Linked DNA regions of Homo sapiens: region 2 is linked to region 1. Evidence: fine-mapped expression QTL. A gene starts in region 1. The other region holds a variant in brackets. All regions are shown on one strand. Distances are from middle to middle.

The links. PIP is the estimated chance that this variant, and not a neighbour inherited with it, causes the effect. A credible set is the group of variants that fine-mapping cannot tell apart.
Region 2: its variant is the best candidate, but not a certain one, in a credible set for the expression of MTURN in whole blood (TOPMed, PIP 0.78).

Annotation. Positions count from the first base shown.
Region 1 is chr7:30,132,587-30,136,981 of GRCh38, reverse strand. MTURN (maturin, neural progenitor differentiation regulator homolog) reads right to left here and starts at 1,996. Exons shown (of 3, transcript NM_152793.3): 1 at 1,684-1,996. The coding sequence starts at 1,845. It overlaps LOC105375216 (a long non-coding RNA gene), which reads left to right and starts at 2,268. Exons shown (of 3, transcript XR_927146.3): 1 at 2,268-2,378; 2 at 3,527-3,665. RefSeq lists silencers at 869-1,048, 1,369-1,508, 1,701-2,078, 1,849-2,098.
Region 2 is chr7:30,094,387-30,098,781 of GRCh38, reverse strand. It overlaps a transcript of PLEKHA8 not described here. Among named protein-coding and RNA genes, the nearest start is that of MTURN, 38 kb to the left of the region's middle. The variant G/A (reference allele first, on the strand shown) is at 2,258.

The DNA of each region.
Region 1 (4,395 bases):
GTATTCTGATTAGCCCCATTTTACAGGTGGGAAAACCAAGGCTCTTTAAAAAATGAGACAAGCTCTAAATTCTGGGAAACCCCAGGTCTCTAACCCCAAATTTGTGGGGCTCTTGCTGTGTGTTAGGGACTATTCGGTGCGTTACCTATATGAACGCCTGGGTGCTGGCATTATTATACCTATTTTTTTGGATGTGGAAACTGAGCTCAGGGTGGGTATTTGAGCACAGTCACAGAGCCAGAACTCAAATCTGGCTGTCACACAAGGCCATCCCTCTTCTGGAGTGCCACTTGTGGAATGCCCAGGTGGATCCCTGCCCTCCTCAGGGGGTGCGTGTGGGCGGAGGGAATGCTTTATCGGCCAGGCATACATAAGCCTTCACCTCTCCAGGACCAAGAAAGGCGGTCTTGCAGTCTCCCTAACTCCTTCGCGAACTTCCCGTAGGTGGTCAGGGCGCTCGGCGGCAGGACCACGGCCCAGCTTTGTCTCCCCCACCTGAGGAGCGTGCACCAGGCCGCGCCCCGCACCACCCCACCTCCGCCCACAAGGCCCGCGACCACACGGTCACCCGCGCCCACGGCCGCCTCCATCTTACATTTGGGGATCATTATTTATTCCCCGACCTTGGAAACACTTCATGAGCACCGTGCTCGCCCTACTCCACCCCTCCCACCCCGACTCCCCTGCCCTCCGCATCCCCTTCCTCAACTGCCAGAGTCGGGATCCCAGGTGGGTGCAGGATTCAAAGTGGAAGGTTTGGACACCGCAGTCCCAGTTCCCGGTCCCTCTGAGCCGGGGCTGAGGGGATTCCCCGTCATCTGGAAAAGCCAACGGGCTTCAGCAGGGCCAGGGCACCGCCTCGGCTGGAGAGAACCCGCCCGGGCCACACACACCTCTCGGGCAGCTCAGAGAGGCAGCGAGGGCAGCGCGGGGGCAGGGGGAGAGGCGTGCCGCGTGTGCGCGTGAGTGTGCGCGTGTGAGGGTGAGGGTGTGAGCATGTGTGTGTGTGTGTTGGGGTGTATGCGCAGGCGCGCGTGCGTATTAAGATCCGGGGTGTAATTCCGCAAAGAAGGTCCAGGAGATCGGGCATCGCTAGTATGGACAGAGCTTTGTGTCCAAACAGGCAGTGCAAGGACTAACCCGCGAGGGCGGGGAGTGGGGTTCTCCCGGGAGGGGCAATGCGAGGAGCCGAGGCTGGGCACCGGAGGGGAGCGGGATTCCTATCCCGGACGGGACGCCTGGATGTGGGAAGCTCCGGACCTGGGCTCCTGCCGGAGGGTCCGTGCGCCCCAGACCCGGCTGGTCCGACGCGGGTGACACCCACACCCCAGGGATGCTCCATGCCAGGCACCGCGCACGGGCCGCGAGGTCGGGTTCCCGAAACGGCGCCCGCAGCAGCGGGGAGAGGAGTGGCCTTTAGGGGGACGCCACACCTCCCGCCCCGACCCGGCTCCCCGGATCCTCCGGGCGCCTTGCCCGCCGCCCACCGGGCCCCACCCGGGCAGCGGAGCCCGCACCGCCCGGCCCGGGGCTTCCCCGGCGGAGCACGCGGGGCGCGGGGCGCGGGTTACGGCCCCCCACTCTGCGCCCACCGCCGCCCACCGCGCGGGAGCTCGGGCGCAGGGACGCACCGCCGCGTCCACACTCCCGCCGGCTCCGGCGGTCCCTCCTCCAGGCACTCACAAAATTGTCGCCGCAGCCGTTGTCCGGACACAGCACATAGAAGGAGACGCCGGGGTCGGCGTAGAAATCCATCCTGCGTTCGGTCTCCTCGGTGGCGATGAGCTCGAAGGGCGTGTTGGAGCACCATTTCTCCGCAACGTCGGCCAGCTGCTGGAAATCCATCGCGGCCCCGCGCCCGCCTCCCGCCGCCGCCCGCCCTCCCGCTCCTAGGCGCCCTCCTCCCGGGCGGGCAGCGCGGCGCTCGGCTCGGCCTGCGCGGGCTCCTCCGGGGCCGGGCTGGGCCGGCTGGGACTGTTTACATGCGGTGCGGAGTGGGGCGGGCGGCGGCCGGGGACAGCGCGGCGCCGCGCCCGCGGCTCCTCCTCCGCCCCGCCTCCCCCCGCCCCCTTGCGGGCCGCCGTGGGGGTTGGCGCGGCCGGGCCGGGACGCGGGGCGGCGGGAGGAGCGGCCGGCACCCCCGCGGGCGCCCGGATTTTCCTGGGCGCTCCCGCCCCCCCTTTATTTTTAAACAAACCCGGAGCATCCCGGGGCCCTGGCCATCGCGGTGCCGCCCCGGGCCGTGACGTCATGGGCCCCAGCCAATCACCGGAGCCTGAGACCGCGCCGCGGCTTGCGAGCCCGGTGACGTCACAGCGCGAGCCTGGAATCCGCAGCTCCGCGGGTTACCTGGAAGCGGTGCGAGCGCCCAATACCTGGTTAGCGTTTCTGTGGAGTTAGAAAGCCCAGGAAGCGTTTGCCCAAATGCGATTTAAATGCAAGGGAGGCCATAGAACTGCAGATAACTTGGACCTTGTCTGGGGCTAGCAGTGGAGGAGCTGAGAAAATCTAAGGAAAAGGGAGCTTTTCTTTTTGCAGAAACCAAAGTTCTGTTCTCCGATTGATTTAAGGGAATGTGTCTTCTTAATGCATTTATCAGACACTAATATGAATGTTCACTTGCAAAGGGCGTGTGTGATTTTTTATTTGCGTTACGTAAAGCTGAATATTTCTTAGAAATGAGCCTCATAAGACTGGCTTCAGTATTATTCAGCTTGAATTCACATTGCATAACCTAAAAAGGTCAAGAGGATAAAGCACATTTTAAAACAAGAGTGTGTGGCCCAACGATTGCACCTGTTGAGTGCTCACTGGCTGCCATATACTGGACAGGCATTACTGGATTGCAGAAAATGCACTAGGGTCCTCGCCCTCAGGACTTGAACACTACAAACACAGACACGTTATAAACATTCAGCCAGCTTTTTTCTGTAAAGTGTGTCTTCTGAACCAGGCACTGTGCACGAATTTACATTCCCACCAACACGTATATATGTTTCCTTTTCTCTGCACCCTCACCAACATCTGCTGTTTTTTGACTTTTTAATCATAGCCATTTTGACTGGTGTGAGATTGTATCTCATTGTGGTTTTAATGTGCATTTCTCTGATAATTAGTGGATGTTGAGCATTTTTTCATATGTTCGTTGGCCACTTGTATGTCTTTTTTGAGAAATATCTGTTCATGTCCTTTGCCCACTTTTTAATGGGTTTTTTTTTTTTCTTGTTGAGTTGTTTGAGTTCCTTGTAGATTCTGGATATTAGTCCTTTGTCAGATGCGTAGTTTGCAAATATTTTCTCTCATTCTGTAGGTTGTCTATTTACTCTGTTGATTGTTTCTTTTACTGTGCAGAAGCTTTTTAGTTTAATTAAGGCCCATTTGTCTATTCTTGTTTTTGTTGCACTTCCTTTGGGGTTTTAGTCATAAATTATTTGCCTAGGCCAATGTTGCAAGGAACTGAATTCTGCCAACAACCCGAATGAGCTTGAAAAGCAGATTTTTTTCTCAAACTTGTTGTCTTTTCCAGACAAGAACTGAGCCTGACTATTACCATGATTGCAGCCTTCGCAGAACCTGAGCGAGAACCCAGTGATGCCATGGCTGTGCTGGGACTTCCGACTTTCAGAACTGTGGGCTATTAAATGGGTGTTGTTTTAAGCTGTTAGGTCTGTTTAAATTCTTCATGCAGCAGTAGAAAACTAATACACAGGACAATGAAGGAGACAGGCACATGAATATAAAAATGCAATATGCTGTTGTAAAGTTACAAAATGGTCCTTAAAAAAAAAAAGTATGGGTGTCTCCAGATAGCACAAGCTTCCTTGCAGTTTTACCTGGCACCACCATTTAAAGCATAATATGTGTTCCAAAAATGAATTCCTTAAATTGGAGATGAAAATATGAAAAATACATTCCTTTTTTCCTTTTTCGGGAAAGAAGGAGTTTTTTTTTTAATCCATGTGTTTTAAAATGTATCAGTCAAATTTGCTCCAAGTGATGTGATCAGAATTATGAAGTTATGTTTATTTAACAAATAGTTTTTGTCAGAAAATGAAAAACTCTTATGAAAAATAAAATTTTGGGTACAAAGCAATTGGTCAATGAAATGGATACCGTTGGGTTTCCTTAGAAATGCACTGAGAGCAACAGCAAAAGCTTCAGAACTCCATGTCTGCATTGATTCCTCCCTCTGCCATTTTAAGTTTTATGTGCATCTGCAACTTCCTTCATTGCTCGGAGCTCAGTTTTCTTTTCTGAAAACAGGGACAACAGTGAGATAAAGTATATAAAGTCCTTATCCCAGAACCTAGCACATAGTAAGAACTCAGTAAATGCCATTATTACTCTTAATCTACTTCTTAGGGATGATGTGTAAGAAGATCAGCTAATGAATTT
Region 2 (4,395 bases), 38 kb after region 1:
CCAGGAAGCGCAAGGGTCAAGGAATTCCCTTTCCTAGTCAAAGAAAGGGGTGACAGATGGCACCTGGAAAATCGGGTCACTCCCACCCTAATACTGCGCTTTTCCAACGGGTTTAACAAACGGCACAACAGGAGATTATATCCCGCACCTGGCTTGGAGGGTCCTACGCCCACGGAGCCTCGCTCATTGCTAGCACAGCAGTCTGAGATCAAACTGCAAGGCGGCAGCGAGGCTGGGGGACGGGCACCTGCCATTGCCGAGTTAGTTGTTTGATTAGGTAAACAAAGCAGCCGGGAAGCTCGAACTGGGTGGAGCCCACCACAGCTCAAGGAGGCCTGCCTGCCTCTGTAGGCTCCACCTCTGGGGGCAGGGCACAGACAAACAAAAGGCAGCAGTAACCTCTGCAGACTTAAATGTCCCTGTCTGACAGCTTTGAAGAGAGTAGTGGTTCTCCCAGCACGCAGCTGGAGATCTGAGAACAGGCAGACTGCCTCCTCAAGTGGGTCCCTGACCCCCGAGTAGCCTAACTGGGAGGCACTCCCCAGTAGGGGCAGACTGACACCTCACATGGCCGGGTACTCCTCTGAGACAAAACTTCCAGAGGAACGATCAGGCAGCAGCGTTTGCGGTTCACCAATATCTGCAGTTCTGCAGCCACCGCTGCTGATACCCAGGCAAACAGGGTCTGGAGTGGACCTCCAGCAAACTCCAACAGACCTGCAGCTGAGGGTCCTGACTGTTAGAAGGAAAACTAACAAACAGAAAGGACATCCACACCAAAAATCCATCTGTACGTCACCATCATCAAAGACCAAAGGTAGATAAAACCACAAAGATGGGGAAAAAACAGAGCAGAAAAACCAGAAACTCTAAAAGTCAGAGCGCCTCTCCTCCTCCAAAGGAACGCAGCTCCTCACCAGCAACGGAACAAAGCTGGACAGAGAATGACTTTGACGAGTTGAGAGAAGAATGCTTCAGAAGATCAAACTACTCCAAGCTAAAGGAAGAAGTTCGAACCAATGGCAAAGAAGTTAAAACCTTGCAAAAAAATTAGACAAACGGCTAACTAGAATAATCAATGCAGAGAAGTCCTTAAAGGACCTGATGGAGCTGAAAACCACGGCACGAGAACTATGTGACGAATGCACAAGCCTCAGTAGCCAACGTGATCAACTGGAAGAAAGGGTATCAGCAATGGAAGACGAAATGAATGAAATGAAGCGAGAAGAGAAGGTTAGAGAAAAAAGAATAAAAAGAAACGAACAAAGCCTCCAAGAAATATGGGACTATGTAAAAAGACCAAATCTACGTCTGATTGGTGTACCTGAAAGTGATGGGGAGAATGGAACCAAGCTGGAAAACACTCTGCAGGATATTATCTAGGAGAACTTCCCCAATCTAGCAAGGCAGGCCAACATTCAAATTCAGGAAATACAGAGAACGCCACAAAGAGACTCCTCAAGAAGAGCAATTCCAAGACACATAATTATCAGATTCACCAAAGTTGAAATGAAGGAAAAAATGTTAAGGGCAGCCAGAGAGAAAGATCGGGATACCCACAAAGGGAAGTTCATCAGACTAACAGCTGATCTCTCGGCAGTAACTCTACAAGCCAGAAGAGAGTGGGGGCCGATATTCAACATTCTTAAAGAAAAGAATTTTCAACCCAGAATTTCATATCCAGCCAAACTAAGATTCATAAGTGAAGGAGAAATAAAATACTTTACAGACAAGCAAATGCTGAGAGATTTTGTCACCACCAGGCCTGCCCTAAAAGAGCTCCTGAAGGAAGCACTAAACATGGAAAGGAACAACTGGTACCAGCCACCGGTACCAACATGCCAAACTGTAAAGACCATTAAGGCTAGGAAGAAACTGCATCAACTAACGAGCAAAATAACCAGCTAACATCATAATGACAGGATCAAATTCACACATAACAATATTGACCTTAAGTGTAAATGGGCTAAATGCTCCAATTAAAAGACACAGACTGGTAAATTGGATAAAGAGTCAAGACCCATCAGTGTGCTGTATTCAGGAAACCCATCTCACATGCAGAGACACACAGGCTCAAAATAAAGGGATGGAGGAAGATCTACCAAGCAAATGGAAAACAAAAAAAGGCAGGGGTTGCAATCCTAGTCTCAGATAAAACAGACTTTAAACCAACAAAGATCAAAAGAGACAAAGATGCCCTCTCTCACCACTCCTATTCAACGTAGTGTTGGAAGTTCTGGCCAGGGCAATCAGGCAG[G/A]AGAAGGAAATAAAGGGCATTCAATTAGGAAAAGAGGAAGTCAAATTGTCCCTGTTTGCAGATGACATGATTGTATATCTAGAAAACCCCATCGTCTCAGCCCAAAATCTCCTTAAGCTGATAAGCAACTTCAGCAAAGTCTCAGGATACAAAATCAATGTGCAAAAATCCCAAGCATTCTTATACATCAATAACAGACAAACAGAGAGCCAAATCATGGTGAACTCCCATTCACAATTGCTTCAAAGAGAATAAAATACCTAGGAATCCAACTTACAAGGGATGTGAAGGACCTCTTCAAGGAGAACCACAAACCACTGCTCAAGGAAATAAAAGAGGATACAAACGAATGGAAGAACATTCCATGCTCATGGGTAGGAAGAATCAATATCGTGAAAATGGCCATACTGCCCAAGGTAATTTATAGATTAAATGCCATCCCCATCAAGCTACCAATGACTTTCTTCACAAAATTGGAAAAAACTACTTTAGACTTCACATGGAACCAAAAAAGAGCCCGCATTGCCAAGTCAATCCTAAGCCAAAAAAACAAAGCTGGAGGCATCACGCTACCTGACTTCAAACTATACTACAAGGCTACAGTAACCAAAACAGCATGGTACTGGTACCAAAACAGAGATATAGATCAATGAAACAGTACAGAGCCCTCAGAAATAATGCCACATATCTACAACTATATGATCTTTGACAAACCTGACAAAAACAAGAAATGGGGAAACGATTCCCTATTTAATAAATGGTGCTGGGAAAACTGGCTAGCCATATGTAGAAAGCTGAAACTGGATCCCTTCCTTACACCTTATACAAAAATTAATTCAAGATGGATTAAAGATTTACATGTTAGACCTAAAACCATAAAAACCCTAGAAGAAAACCTAGGCAATACCATTCAGGACATAGGCATGGGCCATGACTTCATGTCTAAAACACCAAAAGCAATGGCAACAAAAGCCAAAATTGACAAATGGGATCTAATTAAACTAAAGAGCTTCTGCGCAGCAAAGAAACTACCATCAGAGTGAACAGGCAACCTACAGAATGGGAGAAAATTTTTGCAACCTACTCATCTGATAAAGGGCTAATATCCAGAATCTACAATGAACTCAAACAAATTTACAAGAAAAAAACAAACAACCCCATTAAAAAGTGGGTGAAGGATATGAACAGACACTTCCCAAAAGAAGACATTTATGTAGCCAAAAAACACATGAAAAAATGCTCATCATCACTGGCCATCAGAGAAATGCAAATCAAAACCACAATGAGATACCATCTCACACCAGTTAGCATGGCGATCTTTAAAAAGTCAGGAAACAACAGGTGCTGGAGAGGATGTGGAGAAATGGAACACTTTTACACTGTTGGTGGGACTGTAAACTAGTTCAACCATTGTGGAAGTCAGTGTGGTGATTCCTCAGGGATCTAGAACTAGAAATACCATTTGACCCAGCCATCCCATTACTGAGTATATACCCAAAGGATTATAAATCATGCTGCTATAAAGACACATGCACACGTATGTTTATTGTAGCGCTATTCACAATAGCAAAGACTTGGAACCAACCCAAATGTCCAACAATGATAGACTGGATTAAGAAAATGTGGCACATATACACCATGGAATACTATGCAGCCATAAAAAATGATGAATTCATGTACTTTGTAGGGACGTGGATGAAGCTGGAAACCACCATTCTCAGCAAATTATCACGAGGACAAAAAACCAAACACCTCATGTTCTCACTTATAGGTGGGAATTGAACAATGAGAACACATGGACACAGGAAGGGGAACATCACACACTGGGGCCTGTTGTGGGGTGGGGGGAGGGGGGAGGTATAGCATTAGGAGATATACCTAATGCTAAATGACCTAATGCTAAATGAGTTAATGGGTGCAGCACACCAACATGGCACATGTATACATATGTAACAAACCTGCAAGTTGTGCCCATGTTTCCTAAAACTTGAAGTATAATAATAATAAAATTTAAAAAAAAAAGGAGTTCGAGACCAGCCTGGCCAATGTGATGAAACCCTGGCTGTATTAAAAATACAAAAAATTAGCTGGGCGTGGTGGCAGGCGCCTATAATCCTAGCTACTCAGGAGGCTGAGGC